Homo sapiens: one gene and its partner. The protein of the gene in region 2 purifies or fractionates together with the protein of the main gene of each other region. This does not show direct contact. Each region holds a gene or a part of one and is shown on either strand. Other genes may lie near its edges.

What was found.
Region 1: the proteins of ITM2C (region 2) and MTNR1B purify together in Homo sapiens (tandem affinity purification; 2 studies listed by IntAct). This does not show direct contact.

Annotation. Positions count from the first base shown.
Region 1 is NC_000011.10:92,979,651-92,984,248, forward strand, and holds the end of MTNR1B (melatonin receptor type 1B), read left to right. Parts: intron 1-1,796; coding exon 1,797-2,662; 3' UTR 2,663-3,132; downstream 3,133-4,598.
Region 2 is NC_000002.12:230,860,250-230,869,130, reverse strand, and holds the start of ITM2C (integral membrane protein 2C), read right to left. Parts: upstream 4,190-8,881; 5' UTR 4,106-4,189; coding exon 3,986-4,105; intron 1-3,985. UniProt on the Homo sapiens protein: Negative regulator of amyloid-beta peptide production. May inhibit the processing of APP by blocking its access to alpha- and beta-secretase.

The sequences.
Region 1 (4,598 bases), on a different chromosome or scaffold from region 2:
CCTGTCTCCCTGGTTTCCTAACCTAGCTGTGGACACAGTAGTATTATAGTTAGGTCTTGAGAACTCCCAGGACTCCAGTAGACTTGTGTGGGTTCTCAGTGGGGTTGACCCCATTCCTCTGAGGTCAAAATAGGCCCTTCATGAAGGCTTCCTGAGGGTCTTTCAAGTTCCCATCCCCATTCGGACCATGCTATGGGGAATCTTCTTTGAGATGGGGTGAATGTGGGAAGGCTGGAGGCAGTCCTTTTCCTACCCTTGTGGGTGAATAAGTCCAGGTGTGCCATCTACTTCACTTGAAGGGCTGACTCAGGTGAAATCCCAGCTGGGCGGCTCTCAGCCTCCCTTTTTCTGTACCCCGTGGAATCCACACAGAGCCTGGCCTCTCCAATTGCTGTGCTTTGGGGGCTCTTTCCACCTGCCTGACCCTCTAGACCCCCAAAGCCACCACAGCCTCTGTGGCAATGGGACAGACACATGGTGGCTGTGGAGTTTCCATGTCTGTGTCTTTGCTGACTTGGGAGTTCCTCCTGCACACCATCCCAGCCGCCCTCTGCATTCCGCCACCCTAAGGCTGGAGGCTTCACCATGTGGCAAGAGACCAGAAAATTTAAAATACCATGCCCAGTGCACATTGCATCACTCAGGGACCCTGCTGGAGGGAGAGTCTGTTATCTTTTGAGCATACAGTAGGTATTCAAAAAGTACAACACTTGGTGAATGAGAAGATTGGCATTAGTGATGGAACTGCTCACACTATGAGCTTTGTATTGCCCAAACGTTTAGGTTCTTGGTGCTCTATTCGTGAGTCAGTGTTGGTTTTAGAACGCAAACACTTGAGGAGCAGAGATTGTGTTCTTTTAGAGTAAGCCCTGCCTCTGCCCTGGGACTCCAGCTTAGAACATGCCTGAAGCATATTAATTGATGGGTGTATCATTTCCTGAGGCTCTCTCTGGTTGACCAAGCTTGGTGATGTTGGATAAGGCTCCATTCAAAGGATAAATGCCTAGATAGTCCAGGAAGGCCACCATGGTGCAGGCAAAGCAGGGAGGCCCCCCAGAGGCTGTGAGCTTAGGAGTGCTGACAGCCCTTTCTCACCCCACAGGGCTGGGGCTCTGTGCCGCTACTGCAAGTGTCTGTCAACATGGCCACAAGGCTGGGAGTACTGGACCCAGACAGGGCACAAATGGGAATACCAGAAACACATGGTTCCCACTCTCAACACCTTTCTTCTAGTCCAGCTGCAAAATGCAATTCACATTTACAAAACCCATGTAAAGACACTTAGAAAGTAGCCTGTTAACCAGTGGGGAGAAAATGCAAAAGGAGACAACCAGAGAGATGTGCGAGGAGGTGAGGGAATGTGAGGGAGCGATGATAGTGATGAGAAATCCACACTCCTGACTTTCAGACTCTCCTCCTCCGAAATCTTTGCTGGAGCTTAAATGGTGCAAAGCCCGTGAGCATCTGTGCCTATCATGGAAACAGTTAGCATGTGTCAGCACCTGTTAAATCCCTGAGCACTTTGTATCATTAATTCTTACAGCTATACTATGAGGTAGGTATCACTGCCCCTAGTTCACAAATGAGGAAAATGGGGCTCTGAGAGCCTAAACAGCTTGCCTCAGTCATATAGCTAGTGAGTGGCAGAAATGCAATCTGAGTCTTCAGTTCTGTGCCTCTAAGAGCCACTTGGTTTCCACTCACATTGCCAAAAGTAACTTCGTGGAGGGTAGGATGTTCTACAGAATCTAAGTCGTGGGGTCTCGTGCTGACTGTTGCTCTGTTTGCTGCTTCAGGTAATTTGTTCTTGGTGAGTCTGGCATTGGCTGACCTGGTGGTGGCCTTCTACCCCTACCCGCTAATCCTCGTGGCCATCTTCTATGACGGCTGGGCCCTGGGGGAGGAGCACTGCAAGGCCAGCGCCTTTGTGATGGGCCTGAGCGTCATCGGCTCTGTCTTCAATATCACTGCCATCGCCATTAACCGCTACTGCTACATCTGCCACAGCATGGCCTACCACCGAATCTACCGGCGCTGGCACACCCCTCTGCACATCTGCCTCATCTGGCTCCTCACCGTGGTGGCCTTGCTGCCCAACTTCTTTGTGGGGTCCCTGGAGTACGACCCACGCATCTATTCCTGCACCTTCATCCAGACCGCCAGCACCCAGTACACGGCGGCAGTGGTGGTCATCCACTTCCTCCTCCCTATCGCTGTCGTGTCCTTCTGCTACCTGCGCATCTGGGTGCTGGTGCTTCAGGCCCGCAGGAAAGCCAAGCCAGAGAGCAGGCTGTGCCTGAAGCCCAGCGACTTGCGGAGCTTTCTAACCATGTTTGTGGTGTTTGTGATCTTTGCCATCTGCTGGGCTCCACTTAACTGCATCGGCCTCGCTGTGGCCATCAACCCCCAAGAAATGGCTCCCCAGATCCCTGAGGGGCTATTTGTCACTAGCTACTTACTGGCTTATTTCAACAGCTGCCTGAATGCCATTGTCTATGGGCTCTTGAACCAAAACTTCCGCAGGGAATACAAGAGGATCCTCTTGGCCCTTTGGAACCCACGGCACTGCATTCAAGATGCTTCCAAGGGCAGCCACGCGGAGGGGCTGCAGAGCCCAGCTCCACCCATCATTGGTGTGCAGCACCAGGCAGATGCTCTCTAGCCTGGATCTGAGGCACACCAGCAGCATGACAAACTCATGAAATGGTGGGAGAGAGTCTGCTGCAAGGGTGAGACCAGGCAGCCTGCTGGGCCACACTGTCCTGTTGGCATCACAGCCCCAAGGCTGGGGGAACTTCATGCTGGGACAAGCAGCCCATCAACGCCATGGGTTCAGGCTGATCCAGGAGATGCTCACAGGCCACAGGACCTGGAAAACACTCTTGGTGGTGTCTTGGGGATTTGGTGCACACAAGACCAAGGAAAGGACAGAATGAGGAAAGGCCTGGGGCAGAAGAGCCCAACTCCTTCTCATAGCTGACCCTCATCCTCCTGCCTTGGCCTCCTGGCTGCTTTCTCCCCTTCCCCCCAGCGTGGCAGGATCTCTTCCTGTTAGCAAGGATGAAAGAGAGAGGTCAGTAGGACTGGAACTTGGTAACTGCAAGGGCCTCAGGTGGGGCAGGTGCAGAGGGCAAGCATTCCACACTCCGCCATTGACCTTCCCTACACACACACAATCACAACCACACATGCATCACACCACAGACACACCACACTATGCACACATACACTGTGTACACATACATATGTTACACACACATAGCCACCACATCACAAACACACTGCACCCCCCCCCCCCACACACACACACACAGTCACACTGCTCCAGCATCTGGAGCACAAAGTCCGCTTGGCCTCCTTTTCTGGTTCCATCATGTTCAGGTTGTGTGACTTGGGGAAAGTCTCCTAACCTCCCTGTTCCTCAGTTTACTCATCTTAAAGTGAAGATCATGCCGTAGTCAGCCTCCCAGGTTGTTGTGAGGATTCTCTGGGATAACACATCTGCAGAGCTGAGGACAGTGCCTGACATGTGGCTAGCAGGCAGTAATCATTAGCTTTTGTTATTATTATAACTACATAAAATGAAGGAGAAAAGTCATATACAAAGAAAGGAAGGGCTATCACCGGATGCGGTGCCTCACCCCTGCCTCAGCTTGAACCCAGGAGTTCAAGACCAGCCTAAGCAACATGGCAAAACCCTGTCTCTACAAAAATTAGCTGGGCATGGTGGCCCATTCCTGTGGTCCTAACTACTCAGGAGGCTGAGGTGGGAGGATCACTTCAGCTCAGCAGGTTGAGGCTACAGTGAGCTGAGATTGTGCCACTGTACCCCAGACTGGGTGACAAAGTGAGAGCAAGACCCTGTCTCAGAAAAAAAAAAAAAAAGAAGAAGAAGTAGAAGGACAGGAAGGGAAGGGGAGAAAATGGGGTAGGGGACATGGAAGTGGGGAAAGGGCAGCTGCACCCCAATTCATTTCTATGGTTATGTATTTGTGGACTTTATATTCGTAGAAATCTCAGATCTTTGTTTAGCGCCAACAGAATTAATAGCTTTCTTCAGTTCCACAAACACTGAGTGCCCTCTGTGGGCCAGGACTGGTTTGTTGCCTGCCCTCTGCAAGGTCACAGTCTGTTGATAAATTAGTATCAAGTAATATCCATTGGTGCTTTCTATGTACCAGGCATTGTGGTAAGGGCTTGATATGCATTATGTCATTTAATCCCCACAAAACTCTTGGAAAAAGATACTATGATCAATTTTCATAGTAAGAAACTGAAACTCAAAAATGTGGAATGATTGCCAGAATTCAGATAGCTATGTTCAGAGCTAGATGTGGAGCTCAAGTCTGTCTGATGACAGCACCCTACTTCTATCCCCCATCATCCCACCTCGGAATATGTGGCAGGGACAAAGTGCAGTGGGCTAAGTACTGCATGTCCACAATGTGCCTGGGGTCCTCAGCCACCCAGCGGCTTTCCTGAATGAAGAACCCAGGATTTTCTTGGTGTGCTGACCTCTTAGCATTATGCTGGATCCTCTTTCTGGCCTTGCAATGTGAGGAATCTAGGCTGGGTGCTGTGCTTAGTCCCCTAGCCAC
Region 2 (8,881 bases):
GGGCGGTGGACAGAGGGGCTGGCCAGGTTGTGCCTCTGTGATTTCACCATAAACATTTTTTCTCCACACTAAGAGAAACTCATCCTCACTGGCAATCTGCTGACGGTCTTGAAACATGCAAGGACTGCTGAGAGAAGAGAGCAGAAATGAGGGAATGGAGAGAGAAGCGGCAGGAAAGCAGAGAAGCCACCGTGGGGCCTGCCGGGGCGCCAAATCCCAGGAATGGACGACAGCCATGAAAGTCCCCACGCTGCCACAGGGAAGGACCTGGATGGAGCAGGGCCGCTGCTCCACAAAGTGCTTTCGGGCCAGGCCCTCTTGGCCAGTGGGCATCAGGACACTGGGGTAGGGCTAAGCTGGCCAGATTTGCCCTCCTGGCTGGCACGGGACCCTCCCCCAACCGCTCCAGGAGACCCAGCTCCTCCTGCCGAGGGCCTGAGACCAGGACACACTAGGAAACTGAAATCTGATCCCCAGGTATGCAGGCTGGGGAGGGGGTGACACAGGACCATTAATCAAAGGCAAATGCCAAGGAGAAAATTACAGAGGTAAGAAGATGATTGTATTTAACTTGTTTTTCTCCCCTTACAGCCCCAGCTCGTGAGCCTCTACATGCCCACATCTGTGCGTGCATGTGTGTGCATAAGTGTGTGTGTGTGTGTGTGTGAGTGCAGGCACAGGCAGGGTGTGGGGAGAAGGGGCAGGCTAAGAGGGGCATGGCCAGCCAGTGGGCCCCCAAAGGGGAGGAGGGATCCAGTTGGCGCTGGGAGGGAGTGCTTTGCTGTCCCAGGGGGTGCTTCCGGTCCAGCCCACTTCCCAAGCTGGCAGTGTCCCAGCTCCTCATTATCTCAGAGTCAAAACACCAGGGGGGGAGGCCGGGCAGCTGGAAGCCCAGCTGGCCCCCACCCCCATCCCTCCCTGGCCCACTGAGGCACTTCCTTCCAGTCTCAGGTCCACAGACAAAATCCTCCTTGTGTTGCAGTTTTTGCTCAGAAGCAGGGGCAGTGCCCACCGAGAGGGTGCTCCTGCCGCCTCACCCTGCCCCCACCCCGCCCTCACTCTGGGCCTGGACACAGGTCAAGAACTGCCCCAACGCACAATCATCTGTTCACCGCACAATCATCTGTTCACCGAGTGCTCCTCCTGCGGATCACTTTTTACATCTTGTTTTGGGCCGGGTGTGGTGGCTGACACCTGTAATCCCAACAATTTGGGAGGCTGAGGTGGGAAGATCACCTGAGGTCAGGAATTTGAGACCAGTCTGGCCAACATGGTGAAACCCTGTCTCTACTAAAAATACAAAAATTAGCCGGGCATGGTGGCAGGTGCCTTTATTCCCAGCTACTTGGGAGGCTGAGGCAGGAGAATCACTTGAACCTGGAAGTGAAGGTTGCAATGAGCCAAGATCGTGCCACGGAACTCTAGCCTGGGTAAAAGTGAGACTCTGTCTCAAAAAAAAAAATAAAATAAAATAAAATAGATAAAATAAAATAAATCTTGTTTTGGAGTCCAGTTCAGACACCAAGGAGGGTTCTGGGGTCACTGCCAGCCAGAAGAAACGTTTTAATAAGCTTTCCTGGGCATTCCCAACAGTACGGGACAAAATCTACACGCCCTGCCCTGAGAAAGCAGCCTCCTGGCTGCCATCCCTCGGCTCACAGAGCTACAGCTGAGAAATGGGCCTCCTGCCTGCTCACTGCTGGGGGCAGGAGACGAGGCCTGGCTCCTTGCCAGAAACTGGGTAAGGAGGAAATGTGCGGGTTGGCCAAGTGGGGCAACAGGAGGCCCGCAGAAGTGAACTGTTTCCAAGGCTCCAAATCTAGCAGGTGATGGGCAGAGCCAACTTGCAACACCTAAAGTCCCTCTGCACCACGCCAGGGCCTTGGGAAGCTGTGAAAGTTTACTAACATGCAGTTCTGTCCTAAAGATGCCAGGATTCTAATTCTTTCCCCAGATCGCATAGTCCTAAGCTCCCCCTTGCCAATTAGAGAGGGAGGGGACCCTGCCCAACTGACAAAGTTTGAGGGAGGAGGTACTCAGCAGGCTCAAGGCCATTACAAACAGCACGCAGGAAGATGTTGATATTTCCATTTCATGCTGGGTGAGGGGGAAGAAAGGACGCTCAATTTCAGAGCCTGATGAGAAGCCAGAAGCTAGGATGTCAGTTATGCCCCGAGATGCAGGTCTCTGTCAGACTGCCCAAACCCATGCCATCAGCAGGCTGCGGCTGGAGAATGTGCCGCTCCTGCAAAATCTGGGGGACCTTCTGATGGAGTTGGAATAACACCCTCCCACTGTCTGACCTGGTCCTCCCTCCTCAAATATCTCCAGGAAGAGGTGGCTAGGAAAAGAGATGGGCAAGCGTGCTGCCTCCTGCCCCCATCCCTGCCCCTCCCCAGGCTGAGTGGAGGGCAGCTTCCCTTCCAAAGAAAAGGAGTCTTGAAGAACCCCTTGCAAACTTTTAAAGCTGCAGAACCATCTTCTTCAAATATGGAGCGCCCCCTCCACCTAAGCTTCAGATGAAAAGGGGGGAGCTGCTCTCATGGGGTGCACAGCAACCCCCAACCTCGCCTAGGTGGTTGTTGAACTCTTGTGGCTCTGAGCCACTGGTTGCTGCAGTGACCACCATAAAAGGGCAGGGGGTTCTCAGTCTCCTGGCATTCCTCACTCAGGGTCTCTGCCCAGGCTGACACCCAACTCTGACGGCCCTCTCCGGCGCCCCCTCCTCCAGGGTCCAGGTCATCCTCTGCAGGCCCCTTAATGCCCCAGGCAAGACTGAACCTGAGCCACAAAACCTGGGGAGGGGGCTAGGCGTTCAGGAAGACTCTTCAGAAGCCTGCATCTGGAAGTGGGGAAGCAGTGGACAAAGACTTTCTCAGTCCTGCCTCAATGCGGGGTGGGGAGGCGGGGAGGACATGGGCTTGGTAAGCCACAAGACCGCTGGGGGCGGCGCCCACGTAGACACCTTTGCCAGGCACAATAAAACCTGGCTGGGCCAGCTCTCCCTCCCTCCCTGTCCCTGCCCGCCACGCGTTCTGCCCCCTGCGGGCCCTTCCCGGACACAAGGCACGCAGCTCAGACAGTTTTCCACGGCGGAAATGCCTTCTCTCCCCCCCGGCCAGAGGGAAAGTGGAGGAAGCCGGGGTAGGGGAGGGGGATGACAGGGGTGGGGGAACGCGCACAGAGCCCGGGGACCCAGGATGCAAGGGCACTGGGGCAGTTGGGAGCCCTCCCCGTGGGGTCGGGGGACAGCCCAGCGAGAGGCTGGGAATGGAGAAAAGAGAGGGGAGCAGGGAGGCCCAGACGGCAGGGCGTGGGGTGGGAAGGGGGCACCCGGCCTCGGACCCCCGACGTCCAGAGGCCGCAGCGCCGTCGGTTCTGGCTGATTTCCATTTCATCACTTTCTGGTCTGTCAATTCCGGTGCAGGCCAGCAGCACATCCTCTGTCCCTCGCAGCCCCCAATTTCGGAGGAAATCAACGGCCCCACCCTCTTCGTTGGTACCAGACCCCCCCACCCCCAATTCCCCAGCCAATCAGGTCCCACCGCCCTACTTTGGAAAAACTACGTCTAACCCTCCTCCCATCCCCCACCTGGGGACTCGACTCGCGGCTTTCCCAGTTGATTGGAACCAGACGCGTACCCCCCCACCAACATTCCTCGAACTTCTTCGGACCAGCCCCCTCCCCCTATAAGGCGGCGAGGGGGCCCCCACTTTTGGAAGAGACCTCGAGCACTTCTCCACCTGAAGACCAGAACCAGACGCCTCCCACTCTTCGGACTTCAGCTTTTGGCTGCCGCTTTAGTACGGGACTTAAGCCCCCTCCTCATTCTGGGATAAGCAACCATTCGAGACTTCCCAACCCTGCTCCACCCCGGGCTCTGGGGCCCTGACGCGCCTCGGGCAGTCCCCAGGGCCGACGGGGCGCGCCTGGGTCGTGAGCCTGGGTCCCCCGCCCCACCGCCTGAGCCCCAGACCCTCTCACCCTAGCCGGCGTCAGCAGGATCTCGGTGGCCGAGGCCGGCGCAGGGGCCGACGCCGACGCCTTGTCAGCCTTGTCGCCCTTGATGCCAGCCACGGCGGGCTGGAAGCTAATCTTCACCATGGCTGCGCCGGCCCGCGCGTCCGCCCCGCAGCCTCTGCCGGTGCAGCCTCGGTCTCTGCCTCCGCCGCTCCGAGCTCTGCAGGCACCGGAAGTTTGGATCCCGCTCGCGTCCCTCTCTCTAACCCCACCCCCAGCCCTCCCCGCCCCGTCCCCGCGGGAGGGCCCCGGCGCCCGCCGCGCCTGCGCCCCCTTCCCGCCCGCGGGGCCCGCAGTGACCCCTGCCGGGCGCGCCGCTCCGCACCTGGGGCGGGTCGGAGTTCCTTCTGCCGCTCGCTCGCACAGTCACTCACTCGCTCGCTCACTCACTCACTCACTCACTCGCTCACTCATTCATTCAGCCGTCACGCTCGGATCCGTTCTCCGTAGCATAATCCCTTCGCATTCCCTGTCCAAGGCCAGCATCCCCGCAACGCAAGTCTTTGTTAACCCAGTGTTTGCCAGGCAAATGCAGCTTCCAGACAACTCACCCGTCTCTCCTGCCCCACTTCAGGTCTTCCCCTTTAGAAACGCTGGAGCCTCCGCTCTACCTGTCCCCACGCCCCCCTCCTCCGACCTGTCCTTGGCGCGGGGAGGAGGCTTTGAGACAGGCGCCAAACTGCTGCCTCCGTCTTGCCTTCTGAAGCCATCCACGCCTCCTTCATCCTCCATCTTGCTTCTGCCTTCATTCTTTATTCCTGCAAAACCTTCCTGGGGGGTCCTGGGGTGCACGCTGGAGCCGCCTGGAGTGGAGAAGGGAAGGCCGCCCCTGCTCCCTGGCTCCTTCGTGTTGCTGCGACCTCAGTTATTGGGTGACCTCCTGAACTGCCCTTGTCTCACTCATCCAGGAGGACCCTGGCGAGAGTGGAGGGAAGACCCCCAGGGCGGGTGTCAGAGGCTCGGGTTCCACTCAAGACTCTGCTCCTCCCAAGTATCACGGGTACTGGGGAAGCAGGGGCTTCTGTTGCTGGGATGGCTGCTCTTGGCACTAACGCCCTGAATCTTTCCTCTTTGCTCCTGGTCCAGACTGGGCCAGGGACAGCGCCCAGCAACACACACAGGTTGTGCTGAGTGGTCCGCTTTGGTTCTGCTGTTGGGCTGCCAGTGGAGGGCAGGGGAGTCCGTCCGCTTCTTGAGGACAGTCCGGGGTCCTCCACTGATCTCTCTTCTCACCTTTCAGGTCTTTTGCAGCTGCCTTGGGCCCTTAGCGCCCACGTCCCAGACCCGGACCTCTTGGCTCAGATCTTGGATGAACCTAGCAACCTTGAGGACAGACAGGTGGGGAAAGAAGAAAGTCTAACTGATGCTAAGGCCACCAGCCTGGGGAACTGGGGGGAGGGAATGGGGAGGTGGAAGAAGACAGATGGTTTGGAGGAGACGAGGAGGAATCTGGTTTGGCACAGAGCCAGAGAGGAAGGTGTTATGGACTACCGCTCATCACCTGCTCCAGATCCCATGGGAAACCTGGTGTCTGGAGAAGGCAAGCTCCACGTCTTGCTTAGGCCACACCCCCAACATGCATTCCTTCACTCAGTGTTTTCCAAGCACCCCTGTGTGCCAAGCATTGTGTTAAGCTCTGTGGCAGAAAACAGAGATGCCCAAGACACAACCCAGCCACCAAGGATGTGGTCATGTGAAACCTTCTATGAGTGGCATTCTTTCACGTGCATTCAATTATTTAATTTTCATCACAGCCTCTGTGACCTACACATTAGCCTCATGTTAATAGTGATAGAAGGTAGCATGACTAAACCCAGGGTCGCAGAGCTGGTTTGGCACAAATCTCTGGTCAGCAAGACAGGGCCACCTGGGTGAAGCATCCACATGCCTGAGATTGGCAGGCGAGCACCCCACTTCCCCTGGAAGGCCTTCCCAGACCGGCTGGGATAAGTCCCTTTCCTGTGCACCTTCAGCACTGTGCACATCCCCCTCGGGCCTCTCCTTACGCTTGACCATGGACTCAATGCCGGCCAAGTGCTGGGCGTACAACCTAGTGCAGTGATTCCTAAATTTTTTGGTTTCAGGACCCCAAGAGCTTTTGTTTAGGTGGCTTATGTCTATCAACATTTACCATATTAGAAACTAAAACTCAGAAAGTTTTAAGACACAAGAATACATATATTCCATTGGGCATCAAAGCGATGTCATCACACATGTAGTCTCTGGAAAACCCCACTGCACGCTAATGAGAGAATGAGAGTGAAAAGGGCAAATAATGACTTATATTGTTGCAAAAAATAGTTTTGACCTTGGAGACCCCCCTGAATGGGTCTTGGGGGGCACCATGCTCTGCAGATCACCTGTTCAGATGCTCAAGAATCCATATTCCATGGATTCTAAGAAACACATTTCTTCACATTTTAACATCTTGAGAATCAAGATATCTTTTACAATTATAATTGGCAGTGATTAAGTAATGTCTTTCACAAGTGATAGCATCTTATATTTGATGGAGTACAGTATAGCCAGTCAATAATCCAAGGGGAGCCAGGAGGCTGCGGGAGGTCCATGTCGCATACTGAGTTTTGTGGACTCAGGGAAGGACAGCAGGGTGAATGCGGTCGTGGTGCAGCCCAGGCTCCATGCAAGACAGGAGATTTGGGTGGGAACTGGAAAGACACAGGGTGTGGACAAGTGACAGGGAAATGAGAGTCCGCACTGGGAGTGAGGAGAGTGACTCTGGGCCAGGAGCCCTCAGCTCAGTCCAACAGCCATTCCTGCCAGCACCTGAATCCTCTTTGTTCTGTTCTTGCATCTTACCCAAGTGGCAGAGCTTCTCCTGTCCCCCTTTCTGGTTCCAGGTTCTGCTCAGGGACTGCTAAGTTCTGTTGGTGAAAGTGATACCATCATGCCCCTTGGGACCAGCATGCTACCTCCTCTTGGAGGGGCATGGTGGCAGCCATGCAAAGCGGTCCCCTTGGAGCTGCAGGGTGGGACAGCTGTGGCTTCTTTAACCAGTCATTCTCCAAGCAAGGACCTCGGCCAGCAGCCCCAGCAGCACCTGGGAACTTGTTAGGAAGGCAAACCCTTTCTATGTCTATTCCGAAACTCAGGGTGTGTTCTGTGCCCACCAAGCCCTTAGTGATTCTGATGCACACTCGGGTTTGGGAACTGCTGCTCTGTCACTCTGTCCACACTCTCAACGGCCACATCCTGCCCTCTCCAGACTGCTGCACACCTCTCAGCAGCTCAGCTGCTGAGGATCTGGAAGCCATGGCTTTAGGTGGCTTATGTCTATCAACATAAGAACGCCCTCCTGCCTGCCAGCACATCCGCCCCCATCCACAGCTGCCCTTCTGCCCACTGCTCCTCCTGCCACTCGCCGCGGAAGAGGCGTCTGTCTTTTCTCTCCAGCCACTCTCTAGATGAGGATTCCACCCCTCCCCTCCTATCAGACACCTGAGACATCCATCAGCCCCCGCCTCCTAACCTTTCAGCTCTTCCTGTCAGCTCTGAAACATGCTCGTATTAGCCTTAAAACAAAAACAAACCCCTTCTTTGACCCCACGTCCTCCTCCACTTGATACCCTGTTTATCTTTTCTTCTTCTTAGCCAAACCTCTTGAAAATTCAGTCTCCATTTCCTTATCACTCCCTACACTCATCCTACCTCAATCTGGCTTCTATTCCTCCACCTCCACCTGGCTGAAATCTCCAAGCTGCTTTTCAGTCCTCATCTTCCTTGCGTTGATTTTGAGCCTCTTGGCTGAGGCCTCTCCACTAACTCTTCCCTTCCCTCATCAACTCTGGTGTGATTGGCTCCAGTGGGAAGGGCTGTTGGAATCAATCCTGCAACAGTTCACTTTGAAAATAAAATCTCAGGCTGTGCACGGTGGCTCCTGCCTGTAATCCTAGCACTTTGGGAGGCCAAGGTGGGCGGATTGCTTGAGCCCAGGAGTTCAAGATCAACCTGGGCAACATAGCGAGATCCCCGTCTCTAGTTAAAATAAAATCAGAAATGAGAACTTTTACATGTATTTGCCTGTTTCTCAAAATTTAGAAGTTGAATGTTGTTTGCAAAGATATCTAGTTTATTACAATTTAAAGCACTGGTTATGTAAGACTTATGGTTGTAACAAATCCATAGAGGGTCAGTAGATTAGCTTTCTGGAAATGTAACGGGCTCAGACAAGGGTGTGCCCATTGTCCTCAGAGTTCTTCTCAAGGAGAAGTGTGCTCCATCAATCACATGCTCTGAGTAAGGGAGTGGGTGAGTTTGAGATCCTGTTCTTCTGACAAGAGCAGCAGCTATCTTCAGCTCCACCTCCCCTACCTCCACCTGCCCCCTTCAGAGGCCCCTCTTTTCCACTGAGGAGCTAGCTGAAAGCTAAGTGTTGAAGGTAATTAAAAAAAAATTTTAGGTAAAATGAAAAACTATTTTACAAAGATATATATTCATGTATCCAACAAACCAATCAAGATACAGAACATTTCCATAATTCCAGAAAATTTCTTCCCATTCTTTTCCAGTAAATCCCCACCACCACTGGCAACCACTGTTCTGGTTTCCATCACTATAGATTAAGTTTTATCTGTTCTTTAATTTATTTTATTTTCTTTTTCTTTTTCTTTCTTTCTTTCTTTTTTTGTTTTTTTTTTTTGAGACAGAGTCTTGTTCTGTCACCCAGGCTGGAGTGCAGTGGCACCATCTTGGCTCACTGCAACCTCTGCCTCCTGGGTTCAAGCAATTCTCCTGCCTCAGTCTCCCGAGTAGCTGAGACTACAGGTGTGTGCCACTACACCTGGCTCATTTTTTTAAAGGAGGTTTTTAGTAGAGACAGGGTTTCACCATGTTGGTCAG